Regions from separate parts of the Homo sapiens genome. Here all the other regions are linked to region 3. The links come from fine-mapping of genetic effects on gene expression. A gene starts in region 3. Each other region holds a variant in brackets. All regions are shown on one strand. Distances are between the middles of the regions.

Region 1 (4,334 bases), 68 kb before region 3:
TGGGTGGGAGCCAGGCACGGGCATGGCACCCTCCATTCCCAGGAGGCTGTGATTCTGGGTCTTGGGGTGGCAGCTGGACGGCCAGGAAGCTATCTAGAATCTCACTGGCTTCCCATCCTCTGTCTCCTCCACCCCACTTCACTGAAGACAAGACATCCCCCTTCCTCCGGGAGGTGCAGGTCAATCTCATCGACTTCAAGAAATGCAATGACTACTTGGTCTATGACAGTTACCTTACCCCAAGGATGATGTGTGCTGGGGACCTTCGTGGGGGCAGAGACTCCTGCCAGGTGAGGGTACCTGTGGGTGGGGCTCAGGTCCCAGCACCCTGGGGATGGGGGAGGCAGGGGTGTTGGGGCTGATGTGGGAATTGGGACCCCACCCTTTCCCGCTCATGGACCACCTGTCCCATCCTGCGAATGTGCCCCCTCTCCCCTGCAGGGAGACAGCGGGGGGCCTCTTGTCTGTGAGCAGAACAACCGCTGGTACCTGGCAGGTGTCACCAGCTGGGGCACAGGCTGTGGCCAGAGAAACAAACCTGGTGTGTACACCAAAGTGACAGAAGTTCTTCCCTGGATTTACAGCAAGATGGAGGTAAGATCCCTGCAGCAGGACACTGCACCCAGCAGGCTGGGAACTTCCTCAGGTGGGGACCCTGGAGGAGCACCCAGGTTGTAGGCAGAGGTCCCCTCAGCGTCCCCATATTCGGGGGGTGTTCTGGACAGGGTCAAATGTGATGCCTGGGGTCAATCCCAGCTGTCTGTGTTTCTTTCCCTGCTTTTCTTCCCTCAGAACAGAGCTCAGCGGGTTGAAAAAGGGTGGACCTACAGGCCAGGCAGGCAGTTGCTGGGCAGATGTTCTCCCAGAAGTATTTTTTTGTGTAAGGTTGCAATGGACTTTGAAAACGTTTCAGTTTCTGCAGAGGATTTTGTGATAGTTTTTGTTATCAAGCATTTATGCATGGGAATCCGCTCTTCATGGCCTTTCCCAGCTCTGTTTGTTTTAGTCTTTTTGATTTTCTTTTTGTTGTTGTTGTTGTCTTTTTTTAAAAACACAAGTGACTCCATTTTAACTCTGACAACTTTCACAGCTGTCACCAGAATGCTCCCTGAGAACTACCATTCTTTCCCTTTCCCACTTAAAATATTTCATCAGAACCTCACTACTATCATAAAAGAGTATAAAGTAATAAAATAATAAAAAGTTATTTTATGTTTTTTGACTTGCTTTAACCTATATCCAACCTCAGAAGTCATTGCTCAGGTCAAACTGAACCACAGACCCTTCAGTGTGTGCCTTACCTTGCCCTTGGCCTTTGGAATACTTGATCCACCCTAGAGAGTCCCCTCTCCCACTTCCACCCTCTCATCTTCCATTTTTCTTACTGAAGAACTCTGACTAATCTATCAAAATCAGCCATTTACAATGCCTGGAATATCCTCGGTATTTACTATTTATTGTTATAAATTAAGGATGAATGAATAAACAAATAAATGAAAAGAATAAAAGGTGGGCCTCACCTCGGTGCCAGCCCCAGTGCCACTCTCCTCTCCCAGGGATGACCGAGATGTGAGTTCACACAGGCCGCTGGCAGTGGAGTGATGGGAGGCCTCCCTCCACGGCAGGAATTTCGGTGTCAGGAAACAGGGATCTGCCTGCAACTCTGCTGACCTAGTTGAGACCCTGCCTTCTCTGGGCCTTCAGCCTTTAGCTGTAAAGCAGGGGGTGCTCTGCCAGCCCTCCCCTTCTCTGCCTGGGGAACAGGGGAGGGCTCAGATAGGGGGAGCAGAAAAGGCTCCAGAAATCTAGTGCAGAGAGGCCCTCCAATCCTGCATCCATCCTTTCCCTTTGCTCTCCCTCCTTGGAGAGGCAGTGCTAGGTGACAGCGAGGCTAAATTATAGGTTCTGAACCCCAACCTTGGGCTTCTGTGCTCCTCGCCCACCTGGCCCACCCTCACCCTCTTCTCCCATTCTCTTCCTCAGAGCGAGGTGCGATTCAGAAAATCCTAACCAGCTGGCCTGCTGCTCTGCACAGCACCGGCTGCTGTGAAGACTCTGGCCATGGTGACTGGCCATGTGTGGCATCATCTGGGCTAATGGCCACCGGGCACCATCGGACTCCCACCTCCACTGTCTGCTGCCTCTGTGTGTGTGTGTGTGTGTG[TGTGTGTGTGTGC/C]ATATGTGTGCATTGCCACTCTCCCAAGTTTTTCAGAAACCAGCAGAGCTGTCAACTCTTCTCAAAATCCCAGGCTGGAAATTACCTGGAGACAAGAGTTGAGTACCGTGGATGTTCCTACAGGAGTGTCCATAGATGGATGGAGGAGGTGGAGCCCAGAGCCCAAGGAAGAGCTGGGAATTCTTGCTTCTCTGACCCTCACTTACAGACTAGCCCAGTGTGGGCAGATGCCAGCGGCCCAGGTGGCGCCATTGCTGTCCTGGGATGGATCGTGGGTTTTGGTGGATGCAGCTTCCCAGGGCCTGGACCGTCTTCGGTGAAAAGCTGCTCCCGTTGGCTTTATGAGCATCAAGTCCTCACCCAGACCCCCTGCTGGTGCCGTGGATGTCACCAGTCGGACTGTGCTGTGGCTAACCAGGCTGACAACTGAGATGAGGATTCACTGTACTCATTTGGTCACAAGCTGCTGGGGCGGGTTTTATTTTATTTTATTTTTATATTTAAGAAATGAAAATACGGGTATTTTTAAAGATTCTCCAAAAAGTCCAGAAGCCTTGACAGCTGGCATCAATCAGCCCAAGACCCCCAGGGGATTCATGGGAAATGTCGTATTTTAGAGTCCTACAGAATATTTCTGGCCTCAAGGAACTGGATGAAGAGACTGGACAAAGTCCCCAGGATGGGCATCCCCCAAGTCACTACAGCATCTGGAGCCCCTAGGAGATACTCAGGGAAGCAAATCCTTGTTTGGGCTGGCAAGCAAATCCGACACGACGAGGTCCACAAACTGTTTCTGCATCCCAGGGCTCTGACGAAGGCGTTAAGAAACAGATGCTGTTCCCGCGTAGGCTCCCAGGGGCCCCAGGGAGGTCCAGGTGGACTGCCTCTCTCATTCCCAGTAGCTGTCCTGGGACTTTGGGATTTCTTCTCAGCTTTCTCCACCTTTCAGTTTCTCAGTTGTTTCAGAAACATAGCAATGACATAAAAACTGCTATGGAGAGAAAGCTAACATGGTCCCATGCCTTCCAGGCAGCCCTGCTGAAGGATCTAAGTTGGCCCTGTTCCTGCAAATCATCAACGTGCCTGGACTCGCCAGCTAAAAGCCTGGGCCTTCCCCAGCCTTTTTTCTGGGGCACCTATTCCTCTGCCAGTCCTGCTCCCCTCACCTTCCTTGGGCCCGTCAGAGTCTTTTGTGGTGCTGTGCTTCTCAGAGGCAGGATCCAAGCAGATCAGCCCAGCCTAGCCCAGCTCAGGCAGGCCATGGCCGCTCAAGGGAAAGACTGCCCCAGAAGAGCAAGCTGGAGAGGCTGGGCAGGGGCTGATGGGGCTGGGTACACTGGGGAATGTTAGCAAGACTGGGAAGGAGGCCACATTCCTGTCTGCAGCAGCCGCCAGCGATGGTCTTCAGCAATAAAAGTTGTGTGACCTGAGACATCTGTCTTTGGATGTTTTACTGGTACCCTAGGTAACAAATTGAGGTTGCCCACCCTAGTGCCCAGACACTCTTGGTTTTGGTTCTTAGTTTTGGTTCCTCATCTTTGGGTTCTGCTCATTTAGCCATACATTCATGTATTCATTCCATTCACCAGCTGCATCCGTGCCTACTCTGTGCCCGGTACACATGCTAGGCCCAGAAGATACAAAGGGCATGACAGCATCCTCAAGGAACTGGGTCATGACCCAATGTGATAGAAGCTGTGATTGAGTGTGGACACCACGCATGGAACATGCACAGAGCAACCACCAGCCACACCTAGAGATGTCAAGGAAGCTTCACAGAGGAGGTCAGGTTTGGAATGAACCTTCACAAAGCAGGTGGGGGCAGGGGAAGGGCACTCCAGGGCATGTTCTTACCCTCTTCCTCTTCCTCTACTTCTGCCTTTGCTGGCTCAACAACAGACATGTTGACAAGGAAACCCCAAAGCTTACTCAGCTATTTCCAAGGGAATCGGATGGGTGGTCCCACTGGCCTCTTCTGAACGATCTACCTCTTCTTGCTTTGCACTTTTCCTGTGTTTACCATATTGACCTCAAACATTATGAGCCCACTGGTGAATCCCCAGCTCCACCTCTGTACCCCCATTCACCAGTGGGCTGATAGTCCCCAGGGGCACACCAGCCACAAGCACAGAATTCTTCAGGTTTCCCCACAAGCATC
Region 2 (4,334 bases), 28 kb before region 3:
TTAGGGTTTTCTATGTATAAGATGATACCATCTGTGAACAGAGATCATTTTACTTCTTCCTTTCCAATTTGGATGCCTTTTACTTATTTGTTTATTTTGCATAGTTGCTCTGGCTAGGACTTCCAATACTGTGTTAAACAGAAATGGTGAAAGTGGATATCCTTGCCTTGTTCCTGATGTTAGAGGAAAAGCGTTAAGTCTTTGACCATTGAGTGTGATGTTTGCTGTGGGTTTTTTTTTTTTTTAAACTTATGGCTTGTATTATGTTGAGGTAGTTTCCTTCTATTCCTAATTTGTTGAATGTTTTCCTCATGGGAGGATGTTGATGTCAAATGCTTTTTCTGCATCAATTGAGATGATCGTGTGGTTTTTTTTCCCTCCGTTTTGCTAATGTGGTATATTATATTGCTTGATTTTCATATGTTGAAACATTTTTGCATTCCAGGAATAAATTGGGGCCTCCAATTTTATTTCCCTTAGTTCCTGCCCATTTCCACATGTGCCAGGGAGGCAGCAAGAAAGAGTGGAAGGTGCATGGCACCAGCAGAATTAGTGACAGTTCCAGGTATGCTTTTGTTAGCTGTTGGGCCTTGGGCAATAGCATAAGCCTGAGCCTCTCCTTTTCTAATCTGTAAAATAGCAGTAATAACCAACATCCCATGGAGTTGTGATGTTTCTTTGAGCTAATGCTTGTAATGTTATCTGGTGAATAAGGTGTCTTATAAATGACTGGTGTATAACATCATCACATCATCATCATCATCATCATCATCATCCCCTTTGACCAATGTGGGCAGGGAACAGGAATATGCAACATGTAAGACACAGCAGCTCCCCTTTCTCTTTTGACAGTCACAGATACACTGAAGGGCCCAGGCCTGAGGGACAAGAGTTCCTATCTTGATACATCTTGCCGTGACCTCCTCAACCCAAGGAGGAGGGAGGAACAGGGCCATCTTAGGAACAGCACCTTGGTTTTGCAGAAGTCCATTTGGCCCTGCCTGTGTGTCTCAGGGCCCAACCCTTCTAGAGAGATACCCTGAAGGGGCCCTTTGTGGGAGGCAGTGGCTTCTCCTTGAATGACCTTGGTGAAGGAAGAAGATTGGGCATGGTGACCAGAGGAGGTGGCTGAGGACCTTGTGGGCTGGGCCTCGGTCTGGGATAGCCGCAGCTCCTGGTCTCTTTCCAGCAGAGACACTGTGTCTTCTGGGCAGCGGCCCTGTAGCCAGGGAAGGGCGTGAGTTGTTTTCTCCCAGGAACAGCAGCTGTCTGTTGACTTTTCCTTCTCATACCCTGCCCTGGTGCATTTTCCTGTCTCTGCTTTTAGGTGCATCTGTGTGAGTGGGGCACGCAGGGCATGGTGGAGGCACCTAGGGCATGGTGGAGGCACCCAGGGCAGCCGAGGCCTCAGAAGGAGGAGGATGACGTGAGGGCTTGCTTGATGCTTCCTCTAAAGCCAATTCTCTTCTCTCAGCAGCCTCCACCTCTCCTGGCTTCACCACCTGTGTCCCTCCTTCCCATTTTCCAGCTCAGTTTCTGCGGGGACTTGGCCCCTGGGCCAGCCTCTCCCGTCTCGAAGCCTCTTTCTTTCTCTTTCCTTTGCCTGCCTCTCCCACTTCCTCTGGGGCATCGCCTTTTCAGTTTCTCCTCCTCCGGGTTTTCTCTCCTCTCCTGCTGCCTCATGTCCTCTGTCTGTCTTGCTTCTGTGTCTCTCGTGGGGGTGCCCTCAGTTTGGGCCTGGGAAGATGTGTCCCTTGCTTTAGCTGTCCCAGCCAGATGTGTCCTCCCTGGGCCACATATCTGCAGCTCTGGATGACATAGGATGTTTGTCTTGAGGCAGGAAAAGGCAGTGGCCGGGAGCCAGTGTCAGCTGTGGGCCGAGGCCCCTCCACATCCTGTGACCTCACGAGGACCCTCCACGTCCTGTGACCACACGAGGACCCTGGAGCCTTCCAGTGGTTGGAGGACAATGTTAAAAGGAAGGGAAGGGGGAGGAAGTAACTGGGCCCTCTCCCTAGCCCCTATCTCTGTTTATCTTTCCATTTTCCTGGAAAAGGTAGAAATGAAGGAGGAAGCCAAGGACAGAGTTGGGCAGTGATACAGTAATGATACTAACAGGTGATGCTTCACCAGCAGTTACTATTCGCCAGGCTGCACTCAGCTCCGTCCACAGGCCGTCTCTTTTCATTGCAAATGACAGCAACAGAACTCCATCTAATTTAGTTGAAGCAGGGGTATCAGTTTACAGAGCCAGACTCGGGAAGGGTGGGGCCCTCTGGTGTGGGAACACAGGAGCCTGAGGCACAGCTAGGAAGCTCTCTGGGCCCCTCCTCCCTGCCTCTCTCCCCTGCCAGCTCTGTACCTGTCAGCTATTGGCCGACTTCTCCCCCAACAGACTCCTCCTCCTTTCATCCGGCAGGATGCTGAGGTCTTTCCTACCATGTCT[T/A]TTAGCTACAGGGAAGGAGCTGAGATTGGCAGGCTCCCATAGACCAGCAGGGTTCGAGTGGGGACAGAGCAGGCTCCCTTCCAAAAGGGGATGTCATTCACAGAAGAGGGGACTGATGTGGGCACAAAGACCACCTCATCTGACCCTCACTGATCCCGAGATGCATGCTGTTAGGCCCATCTTGCAGTTGCAGAAGCCAAGACTCTGAGAAGCCAAGTAACGCTCCCGAGGCCACAGAGCCACTGAGTGGCAGAGAGGAGGGAGAGCTGAGTGCTCAGAGCAAGGACCCTGGAGCCAGGTTGCTTGGGATTGAATCTAGGCTCTGCTACTTTCTAGCTCTGGAATTTGGGGCAGCTTACTTAATCTTTCTCACCTCAGTCTGCCCGTCTGTGTAAAGGGAATGATCGTAATAATAGTTGCTTCTTAGGACTATTGTAAGGGTAGAATGAGTTATATAACTATTTAGAACAACACTTGGTATGGCATGAGCACCTTACGAATGTTACATGTTGTTATCAGGGTGTTTTACAGTTTACAAAGAACCTTCACACCTATTATCTCACTTGACCTTGATCATAGCCTTGGAAAGTGGACAAGGGAACGGACTGGCAGATTCTGCACTGATTCTGCGCTGCCCGCACCCCATGCTCTCACCCTCGGCCTAATCAGCTTCAGGGTTCCGTAGCCTGTTTTTAAAAATCCCCCACCCGAGTAAACAGCTCTCTGTTCAACAAGTGAGTATCAATGCTTTCTCAGGGGTGAGCTGGCAGGATTGTACATTCTGCTGTCTCTCTAGCGCACGAATATGTATGAAGCTAGAGATGCTGGAAGCTTGGTAAATGTTCATCCAGATGCGGGAGCCCCTGCATTGTGGCTCTCTGCGCAGAGCTCTCTCAGGTACCTGTATCTCGCTGCCTCAGCCTGCTGGACTGGGATGGGAATGAGAAAACAGGGTGGCAGCTACCTAGAAAAGGTGGGCCCTTCAAAGAGCCACAGTGCAGGTGGCCCCTCATGGCTCTTTGCCCCCAAATGGATGTGATCCCTCCCTGTGAGGTGGGGCCCAAGGGCTGGAGTTTGGGGCTGGCTCTGGGATCGAAGGAAACCTACTCATAGCAGGAAGACTCCCTGCCCTCCACCAACAGCCAGGCAGACAGAGCAGGGCTGAAGTCCAGAATCCTGCACTTATTCTCCAGGGCACCTCTCTTTCCCTACCTCAGTTTCTTTCCCTGTAAAATGCTTTTGACGATAACAAAAGGCCTTCGGCAGACATGGAGCCCAACTCCTCACTCTCTCACACAGGGGAGCAAGCAGGTGATGAGAATAGGCCTCTCCCATGACCCCAGCTGTGCGGTAAGGTGAGCTTGGTGCAGGTGGCTATTGCTGTAGCGTGGATCTGAGTAGCGTACGACCAGACTAAGGATGAAAACAGGGAAGCTCCGGACTAAAAATTATCACAGACAGACTGGTCAGATGTACTGGGAGAGAGGTGGGATCTTTATATTCCTAAGACCTTAGCAAGTCTTACTGTTTGGAAGGAAAATAGGGGGAGGACAGTTTGATTTATTTGTGCTAAGCAAGAGCTTTTGGAGACAAGGGACTGGCTCTGAAGGCTTTTTAAGGCCTCCTTAGTTCTTGGATTTCATGAAAGGGCCACAGGTGCACATTATCAGTGTTAGCATCGGGTTATGTTTAAGGATTAAGTGAGAATAAGCATTTAAAGCACTAAGAATAGTGCCTGGCCTGTATCATTTGTCGTGATTATAATTATTACCTCTTGTATCCAATACAGACCCCCAGACTGGGCCTCAAGTGTGGGTTTTCATCTCAGAATTTTTAATTCCTCTTAGTTTCTTCTGTGGCATCCATAGAAGGGCTCCTATGATGCAGG
Region 3 (4,334 bases):
TTTTAGTAGAGACGGGATTTCTTCATGTTGTCCAAGCTGGTCTCGAACTTTTGGCCTCAAGTGATCTGCCTGCCTCAGCCTCCCAAATTGTTGGGATTAGAGGCGTGAGCCACAGCGCCCAGCCGAATCCCTTTCTTGTGCCCCAATCACACTTGTTTGCTGCCTTTATATTCACACTTCATACTTGGCATCCAGACTGTAGAGACCAGGCAGGTAATGCCAATATGTGAATCTGCTGGAGTGACGATGGGGCATGGCACCTGCAGTCACCTACGGTGTCCTCCCAAAGACACTCTGACTCAACTTTCTAAAAACCACTGTTGGCCAAACCAACACAGATGTGGGCAGATTCTGCGTGGAGGTTGCCTGTGTGCAGCTTCTGCCTCTAGTGTTTTGTGTCTTTATTGATACAATTCCTGGAGGGCAAGGACTGTGCCTGCTCTACAGAAGCCTGGAACATCTTAGGGTCTTGAAAAAAGAATCGACCCCTGGAACGTCTTAATATCTTCCATCTTGAAGCCAGCACTTAAGGAGCGGGACCCTCTGGGCCCACCTCCTTCCAGCCCCAACTTCTAAGACCCCAGTGAACCTGGCACCTGAAGCTATAGCAGGAGACAGAAGTCAGTGCTCCTTGTGGTTTCGATGGGCCTGGGAACCACCACCTTCCCTGCCCAGTGGCCACACAGGCCCTGAGTCCGCCTGGATTCCGCAAGTTGTTTAGAACCGAAGAACCGCACAGATCCGCTTGCTCGGTGCCTTCTCTACGTGTGCTCTTGCTTCTGCCTTCGGTCCCCCAGGCCTTTGGAAAGACACAGGCTTATGGTAGAGCTCAAGCTCAACCTGTCAACCCAGTGATCATGGCGATTAAAAACTATCTGGTCACAGCAAGACCTGGTAAATGAGCTTATTGTTCGGGAACACTCGTGATACATCAGGGAATTGACAGGCCTTGCAGAAATTTCATAGCGAGGCCAGGCTGAGATCCCTAGAGGCCCTAGACATGCAAAGCTTTGTGTGTGCCGCCCCCCATACGTTAGTAAAAACAGAACATTATACTTCGACATAGGAATAAGGAAGTCCAATGAGGAGGTTCTAATTTTTCTCATAATAATTATGTTAAGAGTAAGGAATGATGGTCAGCATCTCTAGCACATCATCTACAAATGGTTATCCTTACTTTGCCCGCCTCTAAGCACTCACTTAGTTTTCCTCCTAGTAATCCAGCTATATTCTGAGATTGGTCAGAGATACAATCGTCCTGGTCCAGGTTACACAGCTGGGGGATGGAGGAGCTAGGACTTGACCCCGGGCTGTCTGTCCATAGTGCTTGTCAGCACATGGCCTAGCCTCCTTCAGCAGGCAGATGCTCAGAAGAAGGGACAGTGATCAGATGGCTCCCAAGACTGCACCTGGAGCATGGCTGCCCCTTCAAGACATAAACTAGCTGGACCATGCTCCAAGGAGCCTCCTGTGGGAGTCTAATGGTCTGGAAACAAGACACATGAAGAACAATCGAAGAAATGATGGTCAAAATGGTAATAATTAAAAAAAATGAGCAGCTGAAGTTTATGGAGCACTTACTATGTGCTTGTTTGAGGACTTCACACAGATGAGCTGGATCAGAACTCAGAGTGCTATATATCTCCATGAGGAGGACCAGGAGTGTCCACTCAGCCTCCAGGCATGTGGCACTGGTTTGTAGCTGTGATTTGGTTTAATGAGGCAATGTAGCTTGACTGAATAAGAAGGACAGCTGCCATGCTGTGTCATTTCCCAGAAGGGAATCCCAAGTTCCCTGTCTCAGTAACCTCAGGTGTCCCACACCTTTTGCCTCCCAGTGACTCCCTCCACCCCCCATTCCATTTCGAAGATCTCCATGTCTCTTTGCCTGGAGGTTTTCTGCGTTACTTACCCCTGCTGTAGGAATAGGTCAGTCTGCCTTCTGGGACCCCAGGTGCTGTGGCCCTCCTACCTCTCTGTTTTTTGTTTTTTGTTTTTTTTTTGCAAGATGTAGATTAGAACTTGCCAAATTGTTCTTGGAAGAGAGTCAGAGGCAGAGTACAAGCTGTAGGGAGCGGTGTGAGGGGAGTGCCAGGCGAAGCACACTCCAAGGTCACCGGGCTGTTGGCCCCTTCCTCTGGGAGGAGGGCCTTACCTTGCTTGGAATCATGGGCTTGGCGGGGAGGCTGGGCAAAGCAGGGGTGGGAGAGCACTCCAGCTCTGTCTGGTTCACCCCACCTTGTTCCTGGCTGCTCTGCCTCACCCTGGGCCCAGCGAGAGAAAGGTCAGGTGTGTTTGCCTGAGCCAGGGGAGGAGCTTTGGAAAAACCTGTCTCCAGGCCACAGAGAAGGAATGGCCACCTCTCTCCATTAGTGTGATTTATTGCTGTCACAGCTGAGCTCCAGGGGGGCAGACTCAGCCGGCTCAAGCCAACCAGCTGTTGATCTGATGGGGCCAGCCCAGCCCCGGGCCTGGTTGCACAACAGTGGGGCACCTGCCAAGGCAATGATGGCAGAGCAGGTGATGCTGTGATCGCATGTCCTGAAGGACCTGGATGGCAGGGACTGGAGGGGGTGGGCCCCCCTGCACTATCCAGAAGAACGGTTTCCTACCTCTGAGCTGGGCTTGGAGGCAGTCTGGTAGAGCCTGAGGCTCAGAACATCCCCGAGGTCCCTTCTGCTCTAACAGTGTGAGCTTGGAAAGACCCCAGCCTCTCTGTCAGTTTCCTTTTCTGAATAATCAAGTCCTTCCTAGCTTTGGGGTAAGCTGGGCCTCCTGCTCACTGTGTAACCCTGGAAAAGCCACTTAAGCCTCAGTTTCATCACCTATAAAATAAATGCATCAAGATGTTTTCTGTTATCTCACAGGGTCAAAGTGATACAATGGACATCGAAGCACCGTGACAATTCTCCATGTAGCCATTATGCTATAAATGTTGGCATCACTATCCATTTCCTTGTCTCCTCATTCTCTGATGGCCGGGTTCCTCTTGTCTCTGTTAGACTTGGGTTCATGTTCTGACCTGTTTGCAGACCACCTGCAGTGTCCTCTGTAAAATGGGCATCTCACAGCCTGCCTGGCTGAATTGTTGGGAGGCTCTAAGCAGCTCTTTGGAACCACTGAGACCCTGGAATAGGGTGGAATTGCTGCCAAGTGTGGAGAGTGGGCACCAGGCTCAGTGCAGGTACAAACGTTTAACAGCTTACCCGACCTGAGGCCTCAAGGAGGCCAGGGACTTGGCAATCTGTGCTATAAATGAAGAGAATGGTGACACGGCCACATGCTGGCCATTCAAGCCATGTCAGTGGCATCCGGAAGGTGGTGGAGGGAAGGTAAGAGTAACCAGGGGTGGGCTTGCTCCGCGAGGTCTTCCCGGAGGTGGCGAGCCTCTCCCAGAGGTGAGAGGGAGTTTGGTTACTGGGAGGAGAAAACCAAGAAAAGCTGGAGAGGAATGGGCTCTGTTGTGGTTCAAGCCTGGATGTGAGTTCTGAGAACAGTCAAGAATGCATTTCTCTCCAAGGCATTCACTGTGGGGGAGGTGGGTCAAATGGGTTTGCCCTTGTCACCAGCTGGTGACCTTGACTCTCAGAGTACATTGCCCTTTGGCAGTTCTCAGAACCTCTGTGCACCATGGCTCAGGCCTTCTTGAAGCCAACACTTAAGGAATGGACCCTCTGGGGCCCACCTCCTTCCAGCCCTGCCTTATAAGACCCCAGGGACCTGGCACCTGCAACCATAGCAGGAGGCAGGAGCCAGCGTTCCTCAGGATTCAGGACCTCTGAGTGGGACAAATGGGGCTTGGGAACTGCCACTTTCCCTGCCCAGTGGCCATACGGGTTATGCAGCTGAGGACTGACTTGGGCCTGGGGTCATGGCTTTCTAGGTGCTTCTGGCTTCTGCTTCATTGGAGCCCCTTTCCAGCTGCAAGCCAACACCAGGAGGAACTGATCTGGGGACCTGGAGTTCAAGGCTGTAAACTCCCACAAAGGCCAGAGCTGGCGGAGCTGGAGAACCCCATTCTGGGAAGCTGGTGGTGAGGGCCTCTGCCTTTGATCACCAGGAAAACAGAGGTCAGCTGGATTCCAGCCTATTTCCTCCCTGCCCCACCAACCCAGCAACGACCACCCCAAATGACTGCCCTGAGACTTAGGAGTCAGGAGACAAAAGGGAGGCCTGCCTAGGGGAGACAGGGGAGATGGAGGCCTCGCCACTGAGGGCACGGTCCCATCAGCTGTGACAGTGCTGACGCATCCAGGAGTGGGCACTGCCTCTACCTCCCAACATCTCCCAGAGCTCTGGGTCTTGCAGAGAACAGGAGAGCACAGCTGGATGCT
Region 4 (4,334 bases), 21 kb before region 3:
TCCCTCACCTTCCCTGAAGCCAGCACTGTCACCTCCCATCTCCAATCCAAGGAGGCTATCAGTGGCAGTGGCTTCCCTCCTGCCCTCTCATGTCCCTGGCCACCCCATTCCTGCAGGGCCTCGCCCTCTTCCCTGGCTCCAGCCAGGCTACCCCCCTTCCCTTTGGCATTGGGGTGGGCTCAGCCTTCCTTCCCTCTGTTCCTCCTGGCCACTGCTCTGCCAGCCCTGTTCTGCCCACCTCCCAATCCCAGCACATCAAAACAGCAGTCAAGAGTGGGAAATGCATGTTCTGAGCCCTGCCCTGCCCCTAAATAACTGGATGAATCAGGTACCTCATCTCTCTTTGGGCCCCAATTTTCACAAATAAAAAGCAGGAGCCCAATCACTGTAACCAACTGTGATGAATTCTGTGATGCTAACTCCATCTGGTAGACCTCACATCTTGGTTATACTCAATATATACACAGTCGAATCTTTTTTTAATAGACTTCTTGGTTGCAAAGATCTAGATACGTCATAGGCTAAATCATATCCCTTTGCATATAATAATAGTCTAGGGTAACCATTTAGACTAAACTGTGGGGCCCAGGCATTCTGCGGCCTCATAAAAGGCCCCATTCCGGGACGTTCTGTATGAAGTGAGACCTCATCTTTCTTAGCAGGGCATCCTGCTAAGACCCAGGCCCGGTGACCCCTCAGAGCTTGTCATCCGTGGGCTGAGCCTGCAGGAAGGCAAGCAGGTGGGATGCCAGGGGAGGCGAGTGAAGCTTCGGGAGCAGGGGGAGGGAGGGATGAGGATGAGATAATGAAGTTTCACTGTAATTTGGAGCCTCTGCATTTTCAAGGGAGGTTGTTTCTGAGTTATTTTCACAATGGAACTGGGTATTCTGATCTACCTCACTGCTGCGTGGAATCAAAAATAATAGAGCATGTTGCTATATCATCAACTAGTGGCTTCTCTTTCTGAGCAGTTTTTACCCAGCAATTAAGTGAAATTATGTGACTCAGTATGGGAAGATAATTGCCGGAGAAACTCTTCTGATTGCTTTCTCCCGCACATGCAGCCAGCAACCAAGCAGGAGGATCAGAGAGGAAAATTAACATGGAAGTGCTGCTTCCACCCAGAACCTCAGCTGCTTGCCAATATGGAGATAAACAAGAGCACAGAAAGGAGAGGAAAAATGAGCGGAAACAGAATTCGTTCTCATAATACACCCTAGAGGAGGCAGCAACGTGTGATTGGTTCCATTCTCCAGATGGGGAGAGTGGTCCAAATGGTCTAGAGGGGAAGAGTTGGGGAGCAAGAGAGTGAAGCAGCCAGGGAGTCCCCCACTCCAGCAGTGATGATTTCTCAGGCCCCCTGTGCTGGCGAGCCAGGTCCTCAGGCCCCCAGGCAAAGGTCCAGGGCCCAGTGCGCAGGTGGCGGTGCATGCCCTGTTCCTGTGCCCTCTCCGCTCACTTCAGCCTTGGATCTCCTTCCCCCAGTGACTCCTCCTTCCTGTCTTCCATCTACTCCTTAGAATCTCTCGCCCGGAACTGAGATTTTTCACCACCCAGCCTCTTACCCTCCCCACCCCAGCCAGCCTCCAGCAGCCCAGCTTCCTCTCTGGAAGGAGGGAGAAAGGAATGTGTGGTCACTGGGAGGGTGGGAGGTGCAGAGGGGTGGTATATGAGATGGAAGGGAAGCCAAGCTGGGTGCAGCAGTGAGACAAAGGCATTCTGTGGCCCTTCAAAAGTTCTGTGTATGTACTTGGCCACTCGACTCAGGGGCAGTGCCAACGTACCACCGATGAGATTTTTAAAAATGGGTTTAGGCCCCCCTCCTCCCCGCTCCCGCCACCCCGAGGGGCCCATGCTGAGGTGTGGTTGATGTAGCCCAGGCTGGGACAGCAGCTTGCAGGAGTAGAGAATGGGTCACTTTTCAAATTTGTGACAGTATTTCTTTTCACACTGTCACTTGATCAGAAATGTTTTCTTTAGAATACAAAGGCAGGTCTTAACTCTTTAGCTTGGCACTCAAGAGCCTCTGCAATCTGATTCCAACCATCTTATCTGAGTTCTCACCACCCACCCCATCATGCTTTAGTCCAACTGGGTTGTTCACTGTTTTGGAAGATATCTTACACTAGAAATGGCAGCTATTTGGTAGGTTGCTGTCACAGCCCCCTCCTAGGCTAAGCAGACATTACTGGTGGATGAAGGCCGTCTCCTGTTGGACCTCATTTGGGGAAGCCACTTTGGACAGTTACTACTGCATGAAATGCGTTAAGGCTCATCTTGAACTGATCTTGAACTTGAGCTGAATCCCATTTGTTGTTCCTACTCTCTGTTTCCCCTCTCACTGCTTTTGCTCATGCTGTCTTCTCTACCGGAATGCCTTTCCTCTGCTCTTTCCTTCCCCCTGTCTATCAAAATCCTACCCTGCTCTTAAGGTTCCGCTGGAATGTCAGCTCCTCCACGGAAACTTCCCTAGCTCCCTGTTGAGCTCTCTGCTCCCCTTCTCTCTGTCTTTCTGGACTATTGTTGCATGGCGTCTGTACCTGTTGGGAAGTTCT[C/T]GTCATATTTGCTGATGGATCAGAGCCCTTTGCCACCAAATCCTACTTCTCCTTGGTAGCTAAGGCTGTATCTTGTTCACCTACTTATCCTTTGCAGAACCCAGAATAGTATGGCCCTTTCTAGGAGTTCAGTGTTGGCTTGTGTAATGGATTTGAACCTGAGCATCAATGGAGGTGATTGTTGGGGTTTGAAGGGAAGGCACAGCAGCAACCTGAACTGCTGCCCATTGTCCCTGGTGGCCCAGAGCCATTGACATGTGCTTTCCCTATTCCCAGGGGGCAGGAAGAGCCCTATTGCCAACACTGCACTCCCTCTTCCGGCTAGAGCTGGTCAAGAGGCCACTGTGGGAAGCCTGGTCCATTTGTCCTTCCCTCTCTCACCTCACATCCAATATTCACACCATGGCCCCTAAGATTTGAAGGCCTTAATGTGTTGTTTCATCTACCTTCCACATCTTGACTCCAGTCTCCCTCCTCACTGGCTAAGCAAGGAGCAGGTGTAATTTGGAGATGGGACTTGGGCTAGGAAGCAGCAGTAAACTGGAGAAAGAAAGAGAAGGAGAGAGGGAGGGAGGGAGGTGTTTTACAGATAGCAGATGCTCAAAACTTACCTTATTTCATACTTTGATTGAAGATATTTTAGGACTGTATGACTGCCTGAATCATAAGGGGACTTTCCACTTTAAAATAATTAATCCCAGGTTTACTATTACACAGCTTGGTTTAAAGAAGGAATGAAAATCATCCAATCTTAAGTCACCGTTACTCTCCCCACACCAAACACTACCAAAAAGACAAAACAAAACAAAAACCCCATGAGATAACTGGGCCAGGCATGGTGGCTCATGCCTGAAATCCCAACACTTAAGGAGGCCGAGCCAGAAGGATCACTTGAGGTCAGGATTTCGAGACCCAGCCTGGCCAACATGGTGAAACCCTGTCTCTACTAAAAATACAAAAATTAGCTGGGCATGGTGGTGCATGCTTGTAGTTCCAGCTACTAGGGAGGCTGAGGCAGGAGGATCACTCAGGAGGCAGAGGTTGCAATGAGCCGAGATTGTGCCACTATACTCCAGCCTGAGTGACACAGTGAGACTCTATCTCAAACAAAACAAAACAAAACAAAAACTAGCACTGGAGTATGTGAAGCTTAGCCAGAACTTAAGCCATAGTTACTCTTAGAATGCACCCTCATTGACATTACTGCATTCTGTAGGCTAATCAGCATTGAGTCCAGCAAGGTTGGGAAGCCAAACCTGAGACTACCTGCATGAAGCCAAGAACCCTTGAGAGGGGCTAAAGTGATCTCAGGTTGGTATCTGCTGCCCCCAGCCTCCATGAAAAAGCAAAGCAAATGCTCTCTGAAAGAAAGTGTCCCATTTTAGGACTACCAATTTCCCACAGATTAAAATCTAGCAAATATGAGCTCACAATCGAATATATTACCAAACACAGGAAAAAACAAGTCACTGTGATTGAAAGGCACAGAAACAAAAAGTAGATTTTGACCCCCAAGGATTTAAGAGTTTGGAATTATCAGATACAGAATATAAAATAACTGTAAGAAATGTTGAAAGAATAAGAGATGAGAACACAAAATGAGTGAACAACAAAGACTAACACAAATGCCCAGGCAATTTCAAAAAGAACCAGATAGAACCTTTAGAAATTAATAATATGACCATTGAAACACAAAAGTAAATGAGTGGGTTAAGCAGCAAATAAAAACAGTTAAAAAGGAAGTCAGAAAATGGAAAACAAATATGAAATAATTACCTG
Region 5 (4,334 bases), 30 kb after region 3:
GAACAAGGTGGGCAAGAGTCTGAAGGCAACAGGGCCTAGGAGGGAGGTAAACACCACTTAGCTGAGCGCAGGCCAGGCGGTCAGGAGCCCTGGACCTAAGCCCTGACTCTGCCATGTGACCTGGGACGCCCTTCACCTGCCAGCCACTGTTTCCTAGGCACTTGCAGGAGATGCTCCCCAGGTCCCTTCACACTCTGACCTGCTGACTCTGAGCATGTAGGCTTCCCTGTGTTGCTCTTTAAACATCTTCTACTCCACTGGAATGCAAGCTTCCTGAGGGCAGGGACTCTGTGCTAGACTTTCCAGGGATCGGGGAACTCCTTGCACAGGGGCTGGGCACAGAGTTGCCAAAAGAATGAGTAAACCAACAAAATGTACTTCCTTTAGGCCAGGTGTGGACCAGAAACAGTGAAAGAACAGAGTTTTTAACCAGGAGAAGTGGGAAATGGATCCCCCAAAACCTCATACTGTAGCACTTGGAGATTGACAATGCCCACCAGCGTGTTAAAGCCTGCAGTAAAAAACAAAAACAAAAACAACTCCCACAAAAACCTATTTACCTTTGATTATTCCACTGTTTTCCAAACCTATTTGACCATAGATCAGTTTTTGCACCTTACCTATTACCTTCTCATGAAACACTTGTGAAATGCTATGTTAGATCTTTTTCTGTTTTCTGCTGGATTTATCAAAAATAAGGTCAAGTTTGGTAAAGATGCTGGGTTTCAATGTCATTGTGGCCTGAAATGGGAACCTTATTGCTGCATTCTTAGCTGAGCTCTGCCACCCTCACTGGGGCTGGGCTAGGACCTTAGATGACATTCTGAGTCACCCATTGTGTAAGTAAGTGCCATTTGACCCAGGCAACACCCCATTTCCCAACTTTCACCAAATGATGAATGGGATCATGTTTTCTCTCAAATAATCCACATCAGGATTACAGGCCAAGGAGGCCAGTTCAGTAGAAGTTCGTGGGATAGTGGTCCAGAGTGATTGGCATGTCAGCCCAGGAAATCCAACAAAACATTGGACAACAGTAAGAGAAGATCAGCTACCTACTGAGGGGGTGATGGCGCTGGACTGGAGCTGCTCAGACCTCATCCGGATTCATGAGTCTATTCTGTTTTAAGAGAGATTTTTTTTTTCTTTTATGAGACAGAGTCTGTCACCCAGTCTGGAGCACAGTGGTACAATCACAGCTCACTAACATCCTCAGCCTCCCAGGCTCAGAAGATCCTCCCACCTCAACCTCCCGAGTAGCTGGGACTACAGGCATGCACCACCGTGCCTGGCTACTTTTAAATGTTTTTGTAGAGATGGGTCTCCATGTGTTGTCCAGGCTGGTCTTGAATTCCTGGGCTCAAGTGACCCTCTCACCTCAGCCTCTCGAAGTGCTGGGATTACAGGCGTGAGCCACCATGCCCGGACGAGATATTGCTAAAGTTGAATATAAGCAAAGAGGGAAACCAGAATAGGGAAAGGTCTAGAAATTATGTCAGAAAAGAAAAAAGATACGTAGCCTGGCAAAAGGAAGGTGTGGGGGCCTGCGGTAGCAGTTCTTGAATATTTGAATAGCTGTCATTTTGTCCAGATTGGGCACATCTTTTGAACTCCAGAAAGCTAAGGCAGATTTGGGCTTGATAAAGAAAAGCATGTGTACATGACTGTGGACAGTGAAATTAGATAAACTTCTGTGTGGGGAGCAAGCCCCTTTTCCCTGGCAGCATTTGAGAGACTGAGTTGACACCTGTTGGGTCGGTGTAGAAAGCCAGTGGGTATGAGATGGGGCCAGGTGAGCTGAGCTCTAAGGCACTGCCCCCTCTCAGATTCTGTAACTGAGGGGCCAACATTCCCCGTGGTCTCCAGGCAATGTCTTTGTTCAGCCTCACTGTCCCAAATTGCAGCCCACTCACCACTGGGGCACCCCAGGAGCCGTGGCTTTGGCCTCCAGCAGGTGGAATTTCTGGGCCGCACATTTCTCCTGCTCAGAGTGGCTGGAGGACTTGCTAGTGTTTTGTAGCAACTCCTGGACTTTGAGGAGGGTCTCGGTCCACAATGCTGGTGGCCAGTCACAGTGACAGGAGGGATGCTGCCCTGCAGAGAGACCGTGGAAGGCGTTACGGCAGCACCAAGTTGTCTCCCATCCTGAGATCCTCCAGCGCATGGACTGGCAAGTCCAGCCTGTGGTGAAATGGGCAGACTTTCTAGGAAGAGAACTTTCATCATCTAAGTCAAGGTCACCACCATGGGCCTGGGCCTTGACTTTCTCTTCTCTGGGGAGGAAAATCTCTCCAAGGGGGCTTCTGTGTGAACAGCACTGTACAAATACATGATTGACATACAGACTTAAGACCTCTGAGGCAAGCGGGGAGCCCTGACCAGAATCCAGAGAACCTGGTCCCCAGCCACAGTGTAACCCAAGGAAAGTTCCTGGGA[C/T]GGATTCAGGTTTTGCAGGGCTGGAAGCTTAGACCATTGAGGGCTGGAAGCTTAGGCCTCACTAAGGAAAACAATACACAATTATGAATACAAAATTAGATACAAATATGATCATTAATATATTAATAATCAAATGTGATTATTAATTTAGAAAGATAAAAAGAAATTGCAACAAGTTACAAATCTTGAAAAAACTGACAAATGCCATCATGAAATCCAGACAGATAACATAATATTTGTATTAACTGACACACCTCAAAAATGCTTTCTAAATTAAAAAAAATTTTTTTACGTTACTTCTGCTCACAGCTTTACATAAGCTGGCTTTTGGCTCCATGCATTTCAAACCTTGTCTTTCCTATGCTACACACACACCCCTGGTGCAGGCACCTGAGGCCACAGTTATACTGTGATACAACTTCTGGTTCTGCAACTTCATGTCACAAAGCGCAGTGAGCTGGCCCAGTCGGTGATAGGAGTGTTCCTGCAAGCCATTCCCTATCCTGGAAGTACGTGCATGGCCTGTGAACCATATAAATACATTCCACCAATCCCAAGCCAGAGTCAGATCCCCCCAAAATGTTCACCAGACCCACCGAGAAGCCAGAGCAGAAAAGGGTAGCAGCTGTGATTGACAGTAGTTAAACTCTATTATTCTACAGTGTTTTCATATCTGACCATGTGAACACATTACTAGGGCCCTAAAGGAATCTGAAGCTTGAGCTGTGTAAGTGTCATGGTATTAAACATCCCAAATATGCCTCTGGGACTCCTCTGACTTTGTGTCTTCATCTATATAATGATCAAAACAATTCTGGCATATGTATCCAGATCCTTTTAGGTGAGAATCAGAAATGGACGAAAACATAAAGCCTCTGGAACCTAGAGGCGCTGCCTACAAGGTCAAGATGACAACTGTGAAGACCACAGTGATGCGGGCTCAGCAGGAACTGCTGAGACTTCTTTGGTTTTAGGGGTCAGCACTCCTGCGGGGTCTAATGTCCTGCCAAATGCTCACTCTTAGAGACGAGAAACTCCAATACGAGAACTTTCAAGCTTAAGGCTTTGATCCTAGTTAAGGGACATCTCTCTGGAAGGCATGGCACGTGAGGCTGTAATCAGATATCTGCTACCTTATAAGAATGAGCCCATCTGGTCATTAAATCAACACTTACTGAGTGTACCCCTAGAGCCAGGAGGCACCAGGCTAGGGCCTGCAGGTACAAATCGAAAGGGTCGGAGCCCAGTGTCTAGAAGAGGAGACAAGTCAGACACATGCCTAAATAGCCACAATTCTAGACAAAGGGATGAGACCCATGGGCCAAGTAGATGTCTGAGGCAGTGGGAGACCAGAGGAGGCCTGGTCAGGGAAAACTGGGGGTGCCTGACCAGGCCCTGCTGAATGGGAAGCCTTAAACAGGTGAAAAAGGGGGGCACTGGGTACTTGAGAAAGGTGAAGGTTTTCCAGTGTAGAAGACACTTTCATAAAATTTGATAAGCACATTTGTGAGTGACACATGGGCCAGAAGAAATGCCGGAAGACTTGGGAAGCCAGCAAGTTTAGCTCTGCTCATTGCACTTTCTTTTTTTTCCTATCTCTCTTAGTTTCCATACCTTCCACCCCACTGCTCCCCAGAGAGAAATGTGACAATGAGCTTCAGCTCTGTCGAATCCGGACTACATGGAACCTCTCTGGGTTGGCTTCTCAACCGATTTCAGAGTTGTGAGCTGAGAAAGAACAGCAGGAGAGAGGCCACAGTTATTCAGGGGACTCCTGCCTTGCTGGGGGCTTCCGCAGCCCCTGACCAACCATCCTGGTGTCACTGCTGAGACAGCAGCCTGAACAAGGGCAATGGGACCCCAGAGACTGCATCTGTACAGGCGGAGCCCCAGGGCTT

The links. PIP is the estimated chance that this variant, and not a neighbour inherited with it, causes the effect. A credible set is the group of variants that fine-mapping cannot tell apart.
Region 1: its variant is fine-mapped to the expression of FXYD6-AS1 in whole blood (INTERVAL, PIP above 0.99).
Region 2: its variant is the best candidate, but not a certain one, in a credible set for the expression of FXYD6-AS1 in cerebellar hemisphere (GTEx, PIP 0.57).
Region 4: its variant is the best candidate, but not a certain one, in a credible set for the expression of FXYD6-AS1 in whole blood (INTERVAL, PIP 0.53).
Region 5: its variant is the best candidate, but not a certain one, in a credible set for the expression of FXYD6-AS1 in whole blood (INTERVAL, PIP 0.54).

What each region holds. Positions count from the first base shown.
Region 1 is chr11:117,899,915-117,904,248 of GRCh38, reverse strand. It overlaps TMPRSS13 (transmembrane serine protease 13), which reads left to right. Exons shown (of 13, transcript NM_001077263.3): 11 at 148-290; 12 at 442-594; 13 at 1,984-3,608. The coding sequence ends at 2,010. Among named protein-coding and RNA genes, the nearest start is that of FXYD6-FXYD2, 25 kb to the right of the region's middle. The variant TGTGTGTGTGTGC/C (reference allele first, on the strand shown) is at 2,165.
Region 2 is chr11:117,859,388-117,863,721 of GRCh38, reverse strand. The region is part of intron 1 of FXYD6-FXYD2 (FXYD6-FXYD2 readthrough); the gene reads left to right. All of the region lies in intron 1 of FXYD6 (FXYD domain containing ion transport regulator 6), which reads left to right. Among named protein-coding and RNA genes, the nearest start is that of FXYD6, 15 kb to the left of the region's middle. The variant T/A (reference allele first, on the strand shown) is at 2,447.
Region 3 is chr11:117,831,640-117,835,973 of GRCh38, reverse strand. FXYD6-AS1 (FXYD6 antisense RNA 1) reads right to left here and starts at 2,256. Exons shown (of 3, transcript NR_186291.1): 1 at 1,913-2,256. All of the region lies in intron 6 of FXYD6-FXYD2 (FXYD6-FXYD2 readthrough), which reads left to right.
Region 4 is chr11:117,852,841-117,857,174 of GRCh38, reverse strand. All of the region lies in intron 1 of FXYD6-FXYD2 (FXYD6-FXYD2 readthrough), which reads left to right. The region is part of intron 1 of FXYD6 (FXYD domain containing ion transport regulator 6); the gene reads left to right. Among named protein-coding and RNA genes, the nearest start is that of FXYD6-AS1, 21 kb to the right of the region's middle. RefSeq lists an enhancer at 933-1,433. The variant C/T (reference allele first, on the strand shown) is at 2,556.
Region 5 is chr11:117,801,743-117,806,076 of GRCh38, reverse strand. It overlaps a transcript of DSCAML1 not described here. Among named protein-coding and RNA genes, the nearest start is that of DSCAML1, 6.7 kb to the right of the region's middle. The variant C/T (reference allele first, on the strand shown) is at 2,437.